2 separate regions of the Homo sapiens genome follow, and region 2 is linked to region 1. The links come from fine-mapping of genetic effects on gene expression. A gene starts in region 1. The other region holds a variant in brackets. All regions are shown on one strand. Distances are from middle to middle.

Region 1 (10,437 bases):
GTCTCTTACTTGTAGTTCTCAAGAGTAACAGTAGAATGTGCTGGGAATGCAACATCCGGAGATATGGAGGGACTGGCCAGGCGGCCTGGGCTCCATTCCTGCCTGCCCTAGAAACAGGATGCCCTTCAATGCTTGAGCCCGGTGACTCAGGTTTCCCCCAGAGTAGAAAACCCAGGGCTGGGTACTTTTTGGGGTCCCTCAGCTGCCATACAAGTGAGGCACACACAGTTGTGACCCTATCCTCCCTAGGCCACTTTCCTAAGCCTTGGGGGACCAGCTTACAACGGACCCTGGGATTCTGCTGTCCCTTGCTGCCCATCTGTGAGAAACAAGCCCACTTCATGTAACTTTTTGCGTGTGGCGTTCTGTCTCATCACTCTGGCAAGTTGGTAACCAGTGCACAGTGAACCTGCTTCACAGACCACACCCCATAGTCCCTGGGCCTCCAGAGCAAAGGGAAGCATCCCCTCCTTCCCACAGCCCTGCTTGCTCTGGAAGGATGCACCCTATCAGTGGGGCCGATGCCAGAGGCCTCCTGAGGCCTCCTACTCCCCAAGCCCAGAGTGCTCTCACCCCTCGCCCGTGGCCTCTGTGAGCGTCTGGCTGGGGCTGTTGACCTCATGCTTCTGGGCCCACATGCTGGGGTACTGCGTCCCTGCAGCCAGGCCCTCCACAGGCACCCTGATGTCTGAGGAGTCACTGGCCCAGCAGAGCCAGTAGGGGCAGGTCTTGGAGTCTGGGCCTGCGGGGCCCTCAGGGTGAGGGAGCTGGTGGTCTGAGCCGGTGTGACCAGGCCAGGGACTAGTTTGGGAATGTGGAAAGGAGAGAGTCATTTGATAAAGTTTGTTTGTGGCTCTAATGAGAATAAAGTGCACAGCCTGGCACTTTTTACAAATGTGCACACGCACGCACGCGCACACACACGCAAACACACATGCACACACAAGTGCACGTGCACACACACGCACATGTTGCTGGGCAGTGGAAAGGTGGCCCCTCTTACCTGTAGACATGCTCAGGACGTCCCTGGGGCCACCTACTCCTTTCTTCTTGGCCCACACAGAGGTGGTGTAGAGGGTCCCAGGCTGAAGCCCTCCACCACGAGCCAGCAGTGTGACGTGCTTGTGTTCCCGCTGGCCATGCCCCTGGACCCAGTAGATGGAAGTCTGCCGGTCTGGGCCCTTGGGGCTGCCCAGCTCAGGGTGATGGAGCTGGAGGTCCGAGCCTCCACACTCACGATTCTGTCTGCTTTGGCGGCTGACATGGGTAGAAGCCTCTGCGGCAAACAGAAGACGGAATCCCACGGCCCTTCCTAGACGTGCAGGATGGAGGCTGATGGGGTCACTAACCTGCTGCTGTGGCCTCTGTCGTGGTCCCGAGGGCCTGGGGAGGGCCCAGATGGGGAATCAGACCCACGGTGGTCTGACCTGCAGGATCGGGATGAAGGCTGCTGAGTCCCACCCCGCCTCATCCCCACCAGCCACCCCGGCTTGGGAGGGAAGATGGAGCCGGCGTTTTGCCCCTTGCCCCAGGTCTGGGTCCCGGCAGGGCTGGAAGGAGCCTGAGAGGGATGTGCGCAGCACCTCCGAGAGTCCCGCTTTAGAGAAACACGAATCAGATCATGAGAAAGCAGACCTCTGAGAAGTCAGATGAAAGGTCGTCGGGGGACCAGAATCAGGGAGGAGGGACACGACGCTGGGGCTGCTGGATGCCGACAGGAGAGCAGCGTCCCGTCGCTCTGGACTGCCGACCCCACAGAGCCCAGGGACCAAAAGCCAGAATGTTCCCCAAACACCAGGGATTATGGGCCCAGCCCCTCCTCCCTCAGACTCAAGAGTCCAGGCCCCCAGCCCCTCCTCCCACAGACTCAGGAGTCCAGCCCCTCCTCTCCCAGACCCAGGAGTTCGGGCCCCCAGGCCCTCCTCCCTCAGACTCAGGAGTCCAGACCCCAGCCCCTCCTCCCTCAGACGCAGGAGTCCAGGCCCCCAGCCCCTCCTCCCTCAGACCCAGGCCCCCAGCCCCTCCTCCCCCAGACCCAGAAGTCCAGGTCCCCAGCCCCTCCTCCCTCAGACTCAGGAGTCCAGACCCCCAGCCCCTCCTCCCTCAGACCCAGGAGTCCAGACCCCCAGCCCCTCCTCCCTCAGACTCAGGAGTCCAGGCCCAGCCCCTCCTCCCTCAGACTCAGGAGTCCAGGCCCAGCCCCTCCTCCCTCAGACTCAGGAGTCCAGGCCCCCAGCTCCTCCCTCAGACTCAGGGGTCCAGGCCCCAGTCCCTCCTCCCTCAGACTCAGAAGTCCAGGGCCCCAGCCCCTCCTCCCTCAGACCCAGGAGTCCAGGTTCCAGCCCCTCCTCCCTCACCTCCAGGAACCCCTCATGTCTGCAGGCCCCACGTGCCCCTGGAATCTGCACACCCAGACCCCCGTCCCTCCTGCTACACTTCACTGCGCAATTTCCTCTTTCCCCACCTTTCGCCAGGTCTGAGTGGAGAGGGTAGGAGATGAGGAGGAAGTGGAGGTTTCGAACCTGAGTCCAATCCTTCAGATCCTCCTCATGCCTGACCCTTCCTCAAGGAAATCCCTCAGCTTCCACTTCTCCTCACTCCAACTGTGGATTCCTGTCCTCACTTTCCTTCCTGGTCCCCGTCCTCCAGGCTCCCCACCTTCCCTTCCCACCTCTGTACTCTCACATCTGAGTCCCTAAATGCAGGTCATGGATGGAGAAGTCACCTCTCTGCTGTAAGAGTCCCTAAATGCTGGCCATGGATGGAGAAGTCCCCTCTCTGTCGTAAGAGTCCCTAAATGCAGGTCATGGATGGAGAAGTCACCTCTGCTCTAAGAGTCCCTAAATGCAGGTCATGGATAGAGAGGTCGCCTCTCTGCTGTAAGAGTCTCTAAATGCTAACCATGGATGGAGAAGTCGCCCCTCTGCTATGAGTCACTGAAAGCACATCATGGATGCAGAAGTCAAATAGGGTCTTGGAGAGCAGCTTGGACCCTGTCAAGTCTTCAGATGCAGAATCTGAGGACCTGAGGGATAGCAGCTTGCCGAGGTCACACAGCCTTGACAAGGAGCACAGCTGGGTTCCTCCTTCCCATTTGATTCCTACCCCCTTGCCGCCCTCCCTCCTCCAAGACCCCTCATCCTCAAGCCTCCCACCCTTCTCCCGATACTGCATGTGACTGCAGCGGGTTGTATCCCCTAGAAAGATATGTCCAAGTCCTAACCCCAGATACCTCTGCAGGTGACACTACTTGGAAATAGGGGCTTTGCAGACATACTTAAGGATCTTGAGATAGAATCACCCTGGGTTTAGGGTGGGCCCTAAATCCAATGACCTGTGTCCCTAGAAGGATGCGGACACAGAGGGAGGCTGCCAGTTGAAGACAGTCACATGAAGACGGAGAGACACAGCCACAGGCCGATGGAAGCCAGGGATTCCCGGGAGCCTCCAGAAGCCGAGAGGGCAAGGACGGATTCTTCCCTGGAGCCTCAAGAGGGACCATGGGCCGGAAAACACCCGGATTTTGGACTTTGGGTCTCCAGAACTGCAGGAGAGTCCATTCATCTTGTTTCAAAGCATCTGGCTTGGGGTAATTTGTGACAGCAGCCTCAGGAAACTAACACAAAGACCAAACAGTCCTCTTGGCTCAGTTCTGCACAATCCTCACTTTATCCCCCCGAATCCCCCCACCAGAGGGCCATGGAGGGTCCCACTGGGCACCAGGCCTGGTCCATGGGGAGCGACAAAGAACCTTCTGCTGTCATTAACCGCGATGGTTTATCACAATCATGACCCTCCCCGAGGCCTCTCCTACGGTAACAGCAACATCTACGGTTCCACACCCACAGGGAAAACGGATTCAGAGCAGCAGCAGGGGGCGGGCAGGCTGTGGGGCCGACAGTGAACATGGAGGCAGGCTGGTGGCTGGGAGGGCTCCATGTGGGCCTGGCTGAGGAGCCAGGGATCTGGAGTCAGAACCGGGGGAAGGCAGCTGGAACCCAGTAGTGGACTTGGAATTCCGCAAATCGTCCTCAAACGTCTTCAGCCAGAAGCGACGGCGGCAGCGGCGCCTGCAGACAGGCGTCAGGAAGCTTCGCTGCTGAGGGTATTTCTCAGGCTGGGCTGGGCTGGGAGGCCCAGGTCCTTGCAGGAGGAGAGGGCCTGAACACCGGCCCTTCAAGCTCCCTAGTCAGTCAGTCTTGGGCACCGGGCTCCTGAGGGCTGACAGTGTGATGAGGAGCTGGGCAGCATAGTAGGTGGTCATGATCACCAGGTGGGCATGGGGCAGGGGCTGGGCGAAGGTGTCCCAGGCCAGCACGCCATCAGAGAGCGTGAAGAGCAGCGCGCCCCAGCCGGCACTCCCGCCCTGGGCCAGGCCGCGCCACAGCATGGCCATCAGGATCAGCCCATAGGCTGCCACCGGCAGGACCATATCCGGCTCGAGGTGCTGGAGCACAAGGCTGAGGTAGGGGCCAGGGGCCAGGATGATGAGCAGCAGCAGGCCGGGCTGCAGGGGAGAGAAGCCGAAGGCCCAGACGTAGAGGAGGTGGGCGGTGGCAAAGGCGGCCATGCCTGGCGGGAGAGGGGTGGGGTACCAGTGAGGAAGGCCCATCCTGGGAATGGCCCCGAGGTCACCCCTCAGGGCCTAAGAGAAGGACCATCCCAGAGCACCAGGCCCCACCCTGGCCGAGCCTCCTTGCAGGTCTCCCCACATGCAGTGTCCATCCTTGCTCTGCTCAGAACTGCCAGGAGGCCCCACCTTCCCTTGGCCTCCAAAGCCCCATGGCCTCCAGCTCTCCAGCCACTCTGCGCCAGCCACCCTGGCCTGCTGGGCTACAAGCACCTGACACGTCCCTGCCCCGGAGCCTTTACACTCGCCCTTCCTCCACACAGGCATACAGCCCTTCAGCTCTGCCCAAATGTGACTTCCTCAGTGAGGCCTTCCTCAGCAACCCTGCTTCAAACTGCAGTACCTCCAGCAGGTCCTCACTGCCCTCTGCGCCACCTCAGCTACTGCCCTAACACCGCCTGCCCCCACCCCTCGCTGGAGCGTGAGCTGCCTCGGTCACGGCTGCGCCCCCCACTGTGCCTTTGACCACTGGAGCTCTCACAGGAGCCCTCTGCACCCAGGCTCCCATCCAAGTGCTGGGGCCTCTCTCACACGGGCATCTGGAAAGCGTCACAGCACCTTCCACTCACCAGGGACGAAGGCTGCCGGCCAGATGAGGCAAGCGTCCCCCACAGCCGAGCACACAAGGGCTCCCTGGAGGAGCTGGGTGTAGCCCCCGCTTGGGGACATGACCCACAGGAACCCAGCCAGGCAGAGGACGGGCAGGCACTTGACCAGGGCAGCGAACCAGGACAGCTGGTCCTCGGGAATCCAGAGGCAGAAGTACACGCAGCAGGAGAGGATGAAGGGGCTCAGCCACCTGCAGACATCTGGGCGCTTTGGGGAGTGGGGAGCTACTGAGCCGAAACCCAGCCCAGCCCCCATTCTTGGGACTCAGATCTCATGGCTCCTGTCCCACCCCCACCTGGGACCCCAGCTGTACAGGCTGGACCCATTCAGGGACCAGGCTGCCAGAACCCAGCTTCCCAGGGCCCAACCAACTCAAGGACAGCAGCTCCCAGACCCGCCGGCTGCTGGGGTTCCAGGGCCCTGTCCCCCCAGCCCCAGGCACAGCTCAGAAGGCTCTCACCTGGGCTGAGCAGTGAGTCTTCAGGGTCTGCCCCGCTTTGCCAGCGTCCATGCTGGCCTGATAGCCCCAGAGCGACCTAATCTGGGAGCGAGTGGCTTCAGGGGGTGGAGGGGAGGGCTCATGGTTACACGTTAACCCAAGGAGCGTCCTGTGGACTCTGTGACTGATAACAGGGCCCAGGGAGATGTTGTCCTCACCCTGGGGATGGCCCTGCCTGGCGCCCGCTGATAAAGCACTGTTGGCACTGGGGGTCCCTCTGCCCTAGCCTGCTGGGACATGGCTTCCTCCTCCTATCTGCCTGGGGAGGTTAGGCCCACAAATGCCTGTCCCCTTGTCCTGGGCCCCAACAATCAGAAGAGATGGGGTGCAGAATTCCAACAGCCACCCCATCATGGGAAGCGGGAGAGGGGCTGGCTGGCAGGAGTGCCCCTGGAGGGATGGGAAGGCGAGTCTGTCCTTCACTTGCTGCCCTAGCCGTCTCCCTCCCTGCTCCATGAAACCTTTCCTCATTCTGCTCAACCCCACCAAGCCCTCAGGGGCTCCACCACAAACACTGCTTCAATGGGTGACCAGGAGGGACCACCACGAATGCGGGGAACAAGCACCCTCTCCTGTTAGCTGAGCGAGCCCCCAGGTGACCTCCAAGCCAACTGCCACCCCAGTGAGGACGCTGTCCTCATGGCCCGGTCCACACGCTCCGGTTTCCCAGCGCCGCTCACCGGTGCCACTCGCTGCACACGCAGCCTACACTTCTACCTTCTACCTGAAAGACTCAGACCTACTGGGCGCCAGTACCCAGCCTCAATGCTGGGCTTGGTTACTGGGGGTAAGCAGGGGCAGGAGCAGGGATTTGAGCCTGTCGGTGGCTTCTATCCTCTGCCCAAGGCCCTGCCCACAGGTGGGGTAGACCTGGCAGGAGCCCTCACAGCCAGTGCCTGGCCCAGCCTGGGGCCTCTGCAGCCACAGGGCTCCCTCTGGCAGGACAGTGTGGGGGCAGACTGGGTCAGGAGCACCCCCAGCCTCTGGGGTGCAGGGATAATACAGGCTCCCCACCCCGCATCCCAGAACGTAAGGTCTGACCAGCAGAATCGTAAACTGCCTTCCTTTATTTATATTTGCAATATGAAATAGAAGCTCGGCACAAACGCACGCACACTCACACCAGCCTGGGAGGAGGGAGCTGGGGACAAGGTCACTTGGCAACAGGGCTGGGACCTCAGACCCTCAAGGCCCCTGGGGCTGTTGCCGGGGAGGCCCCTGCTCCCCAGAGCCGGACTGGCCTGGTTGAAAGTGCAGGGTCTGGGCAAAGGCACGGCCCCCACTCGGGACCCTCTGGCACCCCCACCCACGCTGGGCCGTCCCCCATGGTGGACCTGAGCTAAAAGGCCGGGTGTGGGCGTGGCCGTCTGCGCTGCAGCGTGGGACAGCTGGGCACGTGGGTGGCAACCTTGGGACCCCTAACACCAGCTCCCGCTGGGACGGAACAGGGAAGGCTGTGCTTTGGAGCCGCCAGCCCAGTTCGGTGTCCTCACTCTCTCTCGCTCTCCTCCCTCTCTCTATATAATATATAATATATGTTTCTCTCTCTCCATTCTCTCTATTTGACTCTCTGTATCTTTATTCTAGGAGGCAACGCTCCAAAACTTCTCTTCTCAGTGCAAATGGGGGTGGGTTGGGCCTGTCTCCCTGGCACCAGCCTCCTGGGGGTCCAGAGGAGAGAATGTGGGGGTGTCAGGGTGATGAGGGCAATGGGGGCCATCGTGGGACCCGCCCTGCCCCCACCCCGGGAGATCCACGGGAGGACGGAAGATTTGGCCGCCGCTGCCGCACCAGGCAGCTATCTGGAAACAGAGGGAGATGTCGTGTGAGGGTCTAGCAGGCCCAGCCCCACCTACCCAGCCCGAGGCTGCAGCCACACTCACTGGGAGCCTGGGGATGCAGGCCCTTCCGGGGCAGAGCCATTGGGTATCGGAGGAGGCGTGAGGGCCTGGGCACTGTCAGGGGAGAGAGGGGATGTGCAGAGGTCACTTCCTGCCCCACCAGCCCCACCCCCACCCCCCCGCCCTGCTGCCCTGGTGCTCACCTCTGGCTTTGGGGAAGCCCCAAGGGCTCTGGGCTCTTCTCCCCTTCTGTGGTCTGGGGGGGCTGGTGGGCCCCGGAGGCTGGGACAGAGGTAGAGGGGTCTCTGGTTGCACTGTGGGTGAGAGGCAGGTGCGGCTGTCAGCGTGGCCCCCACCGTCACCTGCTGACACCCTCACATCCCACCCGACTGAAGTCGGCTCACTGGGTGTGTGTCTGCCACCTGCCCCACGGGGAGGGGCCTCCCGAGGACGCAGCTGGCTCAGCGTGGAGGGACAGCACAGCCCTGGACAGGAAGACAAGCACCCCTCTTCCCGCCTCCTGTCCCTGTGGAGGAGGTACTCGAGGCCGGCTGAGACAGCCCCAAAGGGTCTTCTGCATGCTCTCACCCTCCCAATCCTTCACACCCTCCAACGAGCCCTTCCCAACCCTGGGGCTCAAGGGCCCCAAGCATCCCAGGCTACTAAGAGAAGAACCAGCCTACAGAGTGCAAGGGGCTGGGGCACAACATGAGGCTGCGCCTGGGGGTCCTGCAAAGGAGGCCTGGAGCAGCTCAGGGACAAGATGAACCCAGAGCCCACCTCAGCGAAGAGGAGAAAAGACTTCTCCCGATACTAGGCAGCCCCACCTCGCTGCTCACCTGTCCGAGGAGCTGGGGGCAGAACGGATCCCGTGGAAGGTGGCCTGAAGGTCCCCGATGCTAACCAAGGCCTGGCAAGGGGCTGTGGGGGATAAGAGATCTCAGCTGCAGCTCCCAGCAAGCTCGGAGCTGGCCAGGCTGCTCTCTCTGCCCAGGGCCGCGGGTGGGCAGGGCAAAGCGGGGCTCACCTGAGGGCTCCGTGACTTTGCTGCCTTCTGTGGCTTCCTGAGGTGCTGAGGGGGGTGTGGGGTCCTGAGACCTGGTAGGCGAGAGAGGCAGCCCAAGGGGGCAGCTAGGGTTAGCACTCGAGCCTATGAGAGGACGGGGACCCCATGGCCACCTCCTGGCCTCGGGATACCAGCACCATTTAGCCCGTTCCATCCGGTTCTCACCTGAGCTGCAGGGCGTCACGGGCAGGAGGGCTGGCCAGGCTCTGAGTGGGGAGGCCCTGGGGCACACTGAGGGGCCCCTGTGGGGCTGGAGGCCCAGTGTGCAGCTCTTCCTCCCCGGAGACTCGGGGGCTGGTCGGGGCATCTGTAGGCACTGGGTCAAAGGTGGCTGTCCAGCTGGGGCCTGGGATAGAGGTGGGGGAGCGGGATGGAGGGTGAACTCAGTAGCAGGCAGACAGCCCTGTGTACACCTGACCACACCGCCCATTCATTCACCTGGAGGCTGAGGGCCAGGGCTGGGGTAGGACAGAGGGGTGGCCCCTCCACGGGCTGCACAGCCAATGCCCTCCTCGTCTTCCTCCTCCTCCTCGTCCTCCTCTTCTTCGTCCTCACTGTCTGTGCTGCCTCCACTCCTGCCCCAGAAACCACCTCGTCAGCTAGCTGTGTGGGACAGACCGGCCGACACCCATCCTGTTCCCTGCAGCCCAGGGTCAGCCCAAGGAGAGCGGGCTGGGATGACAGGCAGGTCACAGAAGGGTCCAGGGAGCCTGGGGTGTGACGACACCAGGAGAGGCTGGGAGAGGGAGTTCTGAGCCAACGGCAAGAACACAGGCGGGCAGGGACAGAATGCGGCCGTAAGGAGACCGTCCGTCGCCAGTCATCCGTGGAGGGCAGGCCCTGGGGAAGTGGGCTGAGCCTCAGCCATGGCAACCAGAGCAGACAGACCCACTCACCAGCTCTCAAGCCACCTCCCAGCCGTCACCTCACACGGTCACCACAGTGACAGGCCTTCCCACCAGCAGGCCCACCCTCTGGACAGAGGCTTCACACTACTCTCTCCCTCCAACTAGAAACTCCAAGAAGGCAGAGATGGCTGAGTTTTGCCACTGCTGTATCCTCAGCCCTGAGAAACCACCAGGCACCCATAGCTGCTCCAAAAACACTGGCTGAATGTTGACTAACACACACCTGTGAGCATGAAGAAAATCCAAGCAACCTACGTGCTGATCAACCGGGGAAGGGGTAAGCAAAGTAACACTAAAACTAAGCTTTAACAACGAGGGTGCACTCTGAAAAACGCCATCATTAGGCGATTTTGCTATTGTGTGAACATTCTAGAGTGCACTTACACACACCTGGATGGTGGCGCCTCCTGTACACCTAGGCTCTGTGGTATAGCCTATTGTTCCTAGACTACCGACCTATACAGCATGTTACAGTACTGAATACTACAGGCAATTCTAACAATGGTAAATGTTTGTGTATCTAAACATAGGAAAAATACAGCAAAAATAGAGGATTATAATCTCACGGGACCACTGTCATATGTGGTCCATCGCTGACCCAAAGATGCAGTATGGGACTATATACTATGTCTAAAATGCTGACCCAATATTTTTGTCTTAACAGAGTAACTGACTACTTTAACTGGAAAGTAATATATCTGTATATAGTTAAAAGTAAACTAAAATACTCAACGACTAAGGAGTATAAAGGAAGCCCCTCAACCTAACATAAGGCATCTACAAAACCCCACAACTAACAGCATGCTTACATGGCAAAACGCTGAATGCTTCCCCCTAAGATCAGGAACAAAACAAGGATGCCTGTTCTTGCCACTTCTGTTCAA
Region 2 (10,437 bases), 33 kb after region 1:
CCAGGATCTAGCATAAGGCCAGGCCCAACTAAAGCTACTTGTTGAATTAATGAAAACTGAAGCCAGAGAAAGGTGTTCTGTTAAGAGCACTGGGCCACACATCCCACAAAAGAAAAAAAATGGGCAGGGGGACCAGACAAGCAGGTTCTCCTCTAATGGAAAGAAACAGTAGATGAACCAACAAAAGCTAATGGCCACAAAGATGGTGGTGACTCGCAATACACAACTCACCAACTCACAGCTCATGAGTCACAACAGAGCAAATAAGCCACAACGACACACCATACCCCAGCAGTGGAGCAAAGTTCTCCTCCTCTGCGCTGCTAACATTTGGGCTGGACGGTTCTTTTCGGTGTTGGGGCTGCCCATGCACTGGAGGACACTTAGCAACATCCCTAGCCTCCACCTCCACTCACCAGATACTGGCAGCATTCCCCCCAGTTGTAACAACCAAAAACATCTCCAGATATCGCCAATCGTCCCCCAGGGGACACAATCGCCCCCAGTTGAGAGCCACTGCAATGGACATTCCCAAATCAAATAATAATCGAAAGAACGGCCAGGTGTGGTGGTCCATGCCTATAATCCCAGCTCTCTGGGAGGCTAGGTAGGAGGACTGCTTGAACCCACGAGTTTGAAATCAGCCTGGGCACCACAGCAGGGCACCAGAGCAAGACCCAGTCTTTACAAAAAATACAAACATTAGCCAAGCGTGGTACAAAAACACAAAAATTGAGCAAGCATTGCAGGACGTGCCTGTAGTCCTAGCTACTTAGGAGGCTAAGGTGGGAAAATCACTTGAGTCCAGGAGTTCAAGGCTGGGCAAACGAGCAAAACCCAGTCTCAAAATCATCAACATCAAAACAGCTACTGATTGCAGAGTGTCATGTGCCTTGCATTCTGCCACAGGCTTCTACAAACCCTGCACTTAATCCCTAGATCCACCCTCTGAGGAGAGCAGTCTGCTATCCCCACTTACAGACGAGGAACAACTTGTCCAAGGTCTCGCTTGGCAGAAGCCGGACTCGGCCTAGGTCTGTCTGGCAAAAGATCCTCTAACAATTAGCTGGACTGCCTTCTCATGATCCCAATCCCAGAACTAGAGTTAAAAAAAAAAAAAAAAAAAAAGCATAACATTTTCAACAGCACAAGCAGCTCCAACAGCCATCCCACCACTAGTAAGCACACGTGGCCGGGCGCCGTGTCTCCATGTGTGTTGTGCATGTATGTAAACCAAGTCCTCATCCTGTGTTATCCAGGCAATCTCGAGTCCTTGCTGCATTTGCAGCGCACGCTAACAGTTAGACCCTCGCCCTTGGGCTGGATGAAATCCCACTGCAGTTTCTCTACAACTGTGAACCCAGTACCGCACCTGACAGTCTACGCAGCTTCCTTTCCTGAAACATCTTGCCTTTCAGGCGGGTGTCTATGGTCATGTCTGTGTGTACTACGAGCGAGCAAGAAAGACCCCAACCAGAGGTCCCATTCGAGGCCTGGATAAGCACGCCGGGCGGAACTACTCTGCCCCTCACCCTCCCAATACATCTGCACTCAGGACTCCGACCTTCCTTCCTTGACATATCTGCACGTGCTGCTCCTTCCCCCCCCGGAAGGCCCTTCTTCCCACTCTCCATCTGTCACCTCCTACTCATCCTTCCTAGACAGAAAAAGCCGTCCGTCCAGTCAGTCTCACCAGTGCCTCCCGCTCTGTGGCCCCCTGCAGCTCCCTAAGTCACCTCGATCACGACACGCAGGAATTGTGACTGTCCGGCTCTGCCTTTGTACCCCCTCCAGGGACCGGCCCCACCTCCAGGGCAGGGCCTAGGGCTGATGCCCCCTCCTCGGTGCCCAGCGCCAGGCTCCCTGCCTGCCCTCAGCAGGCTTCATCTCACTGAAGCAGGCCCGAGTGGTGGCTGCTCCAGAGAAGCCCCGCTCCCAGGTCCCTCGCACAAGAAGCCGGAGGCGGGAGAGGGTCGGTCAAGGTGAAAACAAGCCCCGCTCCTCCAGTCCTGAGCTCCGGGGATCTAAGGAGGCTGCGCCACGGAAGAGGTGGCGGGGCAGAGATCGGGGCGAGAGGGAAGGGTGTAAGCAGGCAAAGTCCAGGGTAACCAGGGAGAAAGACTCCTGGGGGGCCGGGGAACCGGCCAGAGAGGCAAGAGAGCGGAGCTGAGGCTCAGGGACTGGGGAGCGCAGCTGCAGAGAGCGAGTGGGAAAAGGCCGAGAGCAAGAGACTGAGACTAGGGTGGCGGCGGAGCTGAGGTGAAGAGATTAAGAGACTGGGGAGGGTCGAGGGGGAAGAAACGGGGTGCCGTGGAGAGGAAACCCGAAGGAAGGAGGGAAAGGATCCGAAGCAGAAAAGACCCGCGGGGGTCCCGAGAGGGAAAAGCCTGAGGGGACGCGGAGAGGGGAAGACGTGGGCGCCTGGCCCTGGAGAGAGAGGGTCGGGCGACGCGGGCCGCTCACCTGCGAGGGGGGGCGGCGGCTCCTCGCACTCGGGGCTCATCGGGGCGCCCCCCCCCGCCCCGCCGCCGGCGGCTCCGGCCCCTGCTGCGGGGCCCGGTGAGTGGGGGCGGGGGCGGCGTCGGGGACTCGCGCAGGCGCCGGGGCTCGCGGGGTCCGCGCAGGCGCCCGCGGGTCGTGGGGTCCTCGCGCGCCGGGTCCTGCAGAGTTGAGGGGGTCAGCGCCGGGTGGAGTTGCCGACGGGCGGGGGGCGTCACTAGTCCGCGTAGGCACCTCCGGGGTCCGCAGGCGAGGTGGGCGTGCGGGCCGAGGCGGGTTGGCGAGCCGGGTCGCGAGGCCCACGCAGGCGCCTCAGCCGGGAAGACGGGGGAAGTTGCCCCGGTTTCCACAGTCCAACCGAGCGCCCCACGGGAGGGGAAGGCGACCTCCTCCGCGGTCCAAACGGGCCGCAGAGCCGAGCAGCGACCGACGGAAGCCGAGGCCTACTTCCTTAACCACCCCTTCCCCAAAGCCGCTCAATCTCCGGGCTCTGCGGCCGGCCTCAGGGCCTCCGACGCCCGGCTCCCTCCGCCACTATCCCACAATCCCCCTAGCGCAGGACGACGCAGGAGGCCCCGCCCTCCCGCGGCTGTGTTGGTGCGCAGGTGCGGGGGGCGGGGTGCACGCCTGGGCGGTGCAGTGCGCGTGCGCCCGGGCGCTCCCGACACCGCCCACTCTTGAACCCCGCCGCCGCAGACGCGCTTGCGCCCGTTGGTGCCAACGGTCTGCCCCGGAATAAACCCAGACAGCTCAGTGAGCCGCAGCTGCGCACCGGCTCCGTTCCAAGGCCCCGTGAATATTCCGCTCCAGGATTTCCCTTCCCACTCGCTCCGTTTGGAAATCCGTTCGCTGTTCTGTCTCCTCTAATCATAGTGGAGCTTTGGCTCCAGGGTCGGGCTCTTGCGAAATCCAGACCTGGTTTTCGCTCCAGCCAAAGCCAGGCGCCTTCGTTCCGTCCGGCTCTCGCGCTTAGCCGCCTCCGAGCCTCAGAGGCCCTCAGTCGTTTCCGTCTGCTGGCGATAGTCCCGGCCGGGTCGCTGGTGTTGCCAGTTCCGCCCAAAGCAGCTTCTAATAGCATCAACTGAAAGAGACCTCCTAGACCTTGTGTCTAGATTGATGAAGGTCCCTCTGGCTTTGAGCCTCGGTTTCCCCAACTTTAATAGCTCCCCTCTCTACCCATGTTAGAGGCCTACTGTAAAAATCGTGTGGGCGCGAGGAACTTTTTTGTTTTTGTTTTTGTTTTAAGACTCCGAATTGGCCGGGCGCGGTGGCTTACGCTTGTAATCACAACACTTTAGGAGGCCCGAGGCCGGAGGATGGCATGAGACCAGGAGTTGGAGACCAGCCTGGGCAACCTAGGGAGACCCCCGTCTCTACAAAAGAAAATTTAAAAAATTAGTTGGGCCTGGTGGCCCGCGCCTGTGGTCTCAGCTATTCGGGAGGCTAAGGCAGGAGAATCGCTTGAGCCGAGGCTGCAGTGAGCCGGATTGCACCACTGCACTCCATCCTAGGAGACAGAGCGAGAACCTGTCTCAAAAACAAAGGGCCCAGCGTGGTGGCTCACGCCTGCCTGTACTTGAGCTCAGGAGTTCAAGACCCCACGCCTATAATCCCAGCACTTTGGGAGGCCGAGGTGGGCGGATTGCCTGAGCTCAGGAGTTTGAGACCAGCCTGGGCAACACAGTGAAACCACGTGTCTACTAAAATACAAAAAATAGCCGGACGTGGCGGTGTGCGCCTGTAATCCCAGCTACTCAGGAGGCTGAGGCAGGAGAATTACTTGAACCCGGGAGGTGGATGTTGCAGTGAGCCCAGATCAGGCCACTGCACTCCAGCCTGGGTGACAGAGCGAGACTCCGTCTCGAGAAAAAAAAAAAAAAAAAAAAAGAGCAAATTCACCCCTCCTTTGCCCTCTTTGTTCTATTGAGACCCTCAATGGATTGGATAATGCCAGCTCACACTGGGGAGGGAAGATCTTTATTCAGTCTACCGATTCAAATGCTAGTCTCTTCCAGAAATACCCTCATAGACACACCCATAATGTTTTACCAGCTATCTGGACATCCCTTAGCCCAGTCAACACCTGAAATGAACCATCACAGAGAGGCATTTCCTTTTCTCTTTTTTCTATAGAGATGTTTTGTCTTTTACCCAGCATTTGGCTTCCTTGTTTTCTCCACAATATGATGGCATCATTGCCACACTGTTTTAACACAGAGGTCAGGAACTGAGGGATAAGGATGTGGCTATAGTCCCTACCCTTCAAATGGAAGCTGGGAAGCTGTGGGGGCTTTAATGACTGAAGTCTGGATTTCCACCCAGCAGAACTCACAGATATACATTGTGTTTGCATTAGAATTGAAACTTTTTTTTAAGAGACAGGGTCTGGCTCTGTCGACCAGGCTGGAGTGCATGGCACGATCACAGATCACTGCAGCCTCGAACTCCTGGGCTCAAGCAATCCTCTCGCCTCAGCCTCCCGAGTAGCTGGGACTACAACTGGAACTTTTTTCTTGAGACAGGATCTCAGATCCTGCAGCTACCTCTCAATTTATCCTGGATTTAGGAAGAGGAGTGATAAAAACCAATCCAAATAGACTCAAAAATCCCAGAT[C/G]CACCAGAACAATCCACACAAAAGGAATGAGTCTGACATCAAATTGTCCTAGGAAACCAGGATACAAGAAAGAGGAGGATTGGCCGGGCATAGTGGCTCACACCTGTAATCCCAGCACTTTGGGAGGCCGAGGAGGGTGGATCACCCTGTCAAGAGTTCAAGACCAGCCTGGCCAAGATGGTGAAACCTGGTCTCTACTACAAATACAAAAATTAGCCGGGCGCGGTGGCAGGCGCCTGTAATCCCAGCTACTTGGGAGGCTGAGGCAGGAGAATCTCTTGAACTCGGAGGGTGGAGGCTGCAGTGAGCCAAGATCGGGCCACTGCACTCCAGCCTGGGCAACAGAGTGAGACTCCCGTCTCAAAAGAAAAAAAAAAGAAAGAAAAAGAAAAAGAAAGAGGAGGATCGCTCTGGAATTAGTCCAGCTGTGAATCCTGGCTGTGAACTTGGTCAGGGGTCAGCCTCCTCTGAGCTCAGCCTCCTCTCTGGAAAAACAACAGCTTTCAAAGCTCTTGTCTACAAATGACAAAATTTCTTGTAGCTAAACAGAAAAGGAATTTATTAAAGGAATTGAGGCAGCCTCCGACACCCCCACCTCCCGCCCCAATCCCACGTCTCTGAGAAAGCTACAGAATCCGCTTGGCGCTTTGCAGTCAGGAATGAAGCCCACACCCAGCCACAGGCCTGCTCCTGAGACACAGTGCAGCCTCCATCAACGGCACCTGGCTCAGACACTCCCGCCAGAATCTCTGCCAGCCCTGTCCAGAAGCCAGGTGTGGCTGCTCCTGCACTAGCCAGAAGGGAACCTGGGCAGGGGCCCCTCCACCGCCAACTCTTGGCCCGACGACCGGCGGGCTCTGATTGGTAGAGGAGCTAGACCACCAGCGGGTTCTGATTGGTGTACAAAACAGATTCCCAGAGAGAGTTCTGATTTGTGGAGCTAATGTCACATGATTACCCTACAGCAAAGGATGCTGGGAAGGGAAATGGCGGCTACCCTAGGGAAAATTTAGATGTCTAACCTGGGAAATTCCTCAAACCTAGAATTCAGGTTTGCCAGGTGGCCGAAAAAAGGACAGATGTCCCACACACTGTTGCTCAGGAAAGACAGGGAAGAGTAAATGACACAATGGCTCTATAGATGATAAAGAGCAACACTTTTATTATTCTTCCAGTGGCTCCCCAAGTCCCTTAAACCCGTGCCCCTCCTCCCGTCCCCCATGCACCCTCCAAAGGAGATGACAAAGGCGGCAGTGAAGGAGGAGAAGGAGGAAGAGAAACACCTTTATTGGAAGAGCTGTGTGGACAAGAGAACGGGGATGAGAGTGAGAGCATGGGAGGTGGGGTCCAAGGAGCTGGTGCCTTTCTCAGCGCCCCTTCCAGGGACTGCACAGAGACGGGCTGGCACACCCTGGGTCCAGGCACCTAGGCCCTGCGATCCCTTGGGAGAGGGCCTTGTAGGTGGGGAGGGAGGCAAGAGGCCTGGGGTTCCCACGGAGAAGGGGGCAAGAAGCCACCTGGTTTCACCGATCCATGCTGTCGTCCGCTGGGCTGGAGAAACAGGTCTGTAGCAGCTTTTCACAGAACTCCAGCTCCTCCTGGATTGGGCAGGGGCAGGGAGCAAGGGGCCTGAGTGCAGAGGCCGGACCCTGCCTCCAGCATTCTTGGCACCCAGAGGTGACTCCTCTTCTCTCCTGGCCACCACCCACTCCCCCCCACCAGAGGTTAGGCTTTTTTAATCACTGCTCAGATCCATGATTCACTGTCTTCACACTGGTGTCTGAACTACTTGAACTAGAACCCGGGGTCCCCCAGACTCGTCTCACTCCATTGGTCTGCCTCATATCAGCACTCTTGGGCTCTTTCTAACTCCCAGATATGGACCACTGCTCAAAACTTTCTGCGGATACAAACCCCAGAAACCATGAAAGAAAGCACTGAGAGGTTAAACTACGTAATATAAAAAATACTCCCATGGCAAAAAAAGAAAAAGAAAACGAGGTTGGAGAAAAATATTTGTGATTCATAGCACAAATGGCTAATATACTTAACTCTTAAAGAGCTTAAAAAAGTCATTCGCAAAAACCATCACCCAATAAATAGATAAGTGGGCAAAGGATGAGAACGAACAGTTCACAAGAAAGAGAAAAGATGCCAAATTTCACTCATGGGAGAAATGTAAACTGGACTGGAGTACTACTTTTCAACAATCAGTTTGAAAAAAGGTCAAATGGTTCATCGAGGCCACTTTGTCCTGACCAAGATTTGGGGAGTTGGGCACCCTCATGACTGGAGTGTCAATGGTTGAACTTCTATGGAGAGCAGCTTGGTGATAGCTAATGAAACGGCCCTTAACCCTTTAACCTTCACCTTTAACATACCTGACCCCAGCCATTTCCCTTCTAGAAATTGTTCTACAGACATATGTAATAACATATACAAAAGGTTATTCTTTCAGCAGTGTTTGTCATAGCGAGAGTGTAGAAACAACCTGCATATCCATGCTACAAAAAAGAGCCCATCCGCACTGTACAGCTGCAAAATGAAAGAGCCACAGGCGAGACATGCAATGCCCACAAAGCAAGGGGCAGAACAGCCATCACAGCACGGCAGGCTTATTTTGCATAACATAGAGAAAAAGGAGAATTCACATGCACCTTTGCTCGTGTGTACCTAATATTTTAAGAAGGACACCTGAGCAACTGGGTAGCCAGAAGGAGGGGCAGGAGAGAGACTTTTCACTGTTTACCCTCCTGCGGGTCTTGTATTTTCAACCATGTGACTACGGAACCTATTCACAAAGCATTAGTAAAATCTGTTACAAATCTAATTTGAATGTTTCCACGGGTGTATACATAAGTCAAAACTTCTCATGTAGTACACTTTTTTTTTTTTTTTTTTTGAGATGGAGTCTCACTCTGTCGCCCAGGCTGGAGTGCAGTGGCGCATCTTGGCTCACTGCAACCTCCGCCTCCCCGGTTCAAGCGATTCTCCTGCCTCAGCCTCCTGGGTAGCTGGGATTACAAGCACCTGCCACTATGCCCAGCTAATTTTTTGTATTTTTAGTAGAGATGGGGTTTTACCATGTTGGCCAGGCTGGTCTCGAACTCCTGACCTCATGATTTGCCTGCCTCGGCCTCCCAAAGTGCTGGGATTACAGGCGTGAGCCACCATGCCTGGCCATGTAGTACACTTTCAATACATACAGACACTTGACAGTGTCTACACAGGAATGAATCTAATAGAATATAACGTCCCAAGGAGGTGGGTGCGTTTGCTAAGCTCGGCTTTGCTGAAGCACCAGCATTGATTCATTCACTTCAACAAATTAATGCATTACTTAATCAGTTAACTATTTGAATTTTAATTAGTTGTGATTTAGCATTTGTTACTTATCTAGTTATCTAATGAGTTATTTATTTGCCCCTTATCTAATTAAATATCTGATGACTTGTTATTTATCACTTGTTATTTACCCAAAATAATTGGTTATTTTTTGCCATTTGTTATTTCTTGTCAATTTAATGAAATAGTTAAATCATTAAGACATTTGAGTGATATTATATTCAATTTACATTTACTTAATGTAAAACAACTGTATTGGGTAATTTAGATAATAATTCAATGATTGGGCAACACTTTAAGAATCTCCAAGCTCCTGTCTCCTTGCTGTCTCTCCTACTCTGACACAGCACGGGACGAATGCTAGGCATGAAATAAACATCTGCTGAATGGAAGATAAGTGAAATGCACGAGAACACGAATGAAAGCCTGAACCAGCGGACCCAGGAGCCCCCAAGGGCAAGGACTGGCTGGCTCTGCCCCTACTAGGGTCCCCACTACCACACTTGGTCTAACCTGGGGAATTCCTCACCCCCCAGGCCCCTCCCCCTCACACCTGGTCCTCCTCACACCCTGTCCCTTCCCCAACTCACCTGGTCCTTCTGGAGCCGCTGTCCCCTCCCCCGGCACACGATCCTCCTCGAACCCCATCCCCTGCCCCTCACACCTAGTCCTCCTTGCACCCCGTCACCTCCCCGTGTACCTGGTCCTCCTGGAGCCCCTGTCCCCTCCCCCTGGCACCTGATCCTCCTCGAACCCCATCCCCTCCCCACACACCTAGTCCTCCTGGAGCCCTTGTCCCCTCCCCCTTGCACCTGGTCCTCCTTGCACCCCGTCCCCTCCCCATGTACCTGGTACTCCTCATGCTGCTGCAGCAGCTGACAGCGGTGGCGGAGGAGCTCCTCCAGGCCCAGTTCCGGCTCCCGACACTCGCGCACACCCTGCGGAAAGTCTGTCACCAGGCTGTGAGGGACATGACAGCGGCCCTTAGGACCTCCCTCTAGAGGCCTCACTGACCCAACCCTATCGCCCGCCCCGTCCCCTGGCTCACTCAGGAGCCTGGCAAGTCGCTGCCCCACAATGGGCCTCCATTTCCCCATCTGCGGAATGGACCTCACGCTGCCCCTGGCCCAGGGTGGGTGCTGAGGGGCTCAGCACAGGGCCTGGTGCGTGTCAACTCTGGTGTGCTGTTGAGAGCTCCAGCATCATCTGATTAGACACTAATCCACTGGTGGGGGCGTGTACAGAAGCCTCTCTCCCTCCTGCAAGGCCTCTGTGCCAGCCCTACTGGTGAGGAAACTGAGGCTCCCTGACTCCTGCTCCTTTCTGGCCCCACACCCTTCCTCTCTACGGGAAGGTCCCAACTCCTGAGTCCCTACGGGCTGATTCCTGAGCCACCCCCACCTTGAGAGGACGGGGCCCCCACCCCAGGCCCCGTCCTCTCAAGGAGCCAAAGTACCTGCACAGGGCTCCAAGCACGTGCTCGTGGAAGGGGCTGTGCTCTGTCCGCACCAGGGCCACCAGCTGCTGGACCATCCCCATGGAGCACAGGGTCCCTGGGGGGAGGGCTGCAGGGGTCAGAGGGGCAGCCCCACCCATCTCCTATGCCCTCCCCGGGATGCCTGTTCCTCCCCTTCTCCCACACCTGCACCCACCCCAGGGCGTCTGCTCCCCACTCCTGCCCTCACTCAAGGGCTGCCACACCTTTGTGTTCAGGGTGGCCCACCAGCAGGTTCTGCAGCAGGAATGCTGATTTGACCTTGAGCTTCTGCACCTGCTGCTGCATGGCCCTCATCAACACAGAGAAGCCGTCCAGGCGGAGGAACTGCAGCAGCCCAGCCTCCTGCTCTCGGACCAGACCTGGGAGAGGGGGAAAGGTCCTGAGCTTGCAGTCACCACCACCACCACTGTCATCACAAGCACCATCACCAACATCATCACAACCACCATCACCAACATCATCATCACCACCATCACCACTA

Evidence for each region. PIP is the estimated chance that this variant, and not a neighbour inherited with it, causes the effect.
Region 2: its variant is fine-mapped to the expression of TMEM86B in whole blood (TOPMed, PIP 0.91).

What each region holds. Positions count from the first base shown.
Region 1 is chr19:55,222,992-55,233,428 of GRCh38, forward strand. It overlaps TMEM86B (transmembrane protein 86B), which reads right to left and starts at 5,772. Exons shown (of 3, transcript NM_173804.5): 1 at 5,700-5,772; 2 at 5,200-5,446; 3 at 3,647-4,572. The coding sequence starts at 5,750. The coding sequence ends at 4,190. It overlaps PPP6R1 (protein phosphatase 6 regulatory subunit 1), which reads right to left. Exons shown (of 24, transcript NM_014931.4): 18 at 9,084-9,220; 19 at 8,811-8,991; 20 at 8,607-8,677; 21 at 8,419-8,500; 22 at 7,783-7,893; 23 at 7,622-7,693; 24 at 6,788-7,540. The coding sequence ends at 7,537. MIR6804 (microRNA 6804) reads right to left here and starts at 7,961; the gene lies at 7,894-7,961.
Region 2 is chr19:55,255,972-55,266,408 of GRCh38, forward strand. PPP6R1 (protein phosphatase 6 regulatory subunit 1) reads right to left here and starts at 3,046. Exons shown (of 24, transcript NM_014931.4): 1 at 2,464-3,046. HSPBP1 (HSPA (Hsp70) binding protein 1) reads right to left here. Exons shown (of 8, transcript NM_012267.5): 5 at 10,160-10,315; 6 at 9,915-10,011; 7 at 9,307-9,418; 8 at 6,252-6,711. The coding sequence ends at 6,637. RefSeq lists silencers at 1,126-1,319, 2,504-2,563, 2,734-2,833, 2,964-3,243, 3,150-3,444 and enhancers at 2,294-3,268, 3,274-3,473, 3,504-3,553, 3,634-3,683. The variant C/G (reference allele first, on the strand shown) is at 5,114.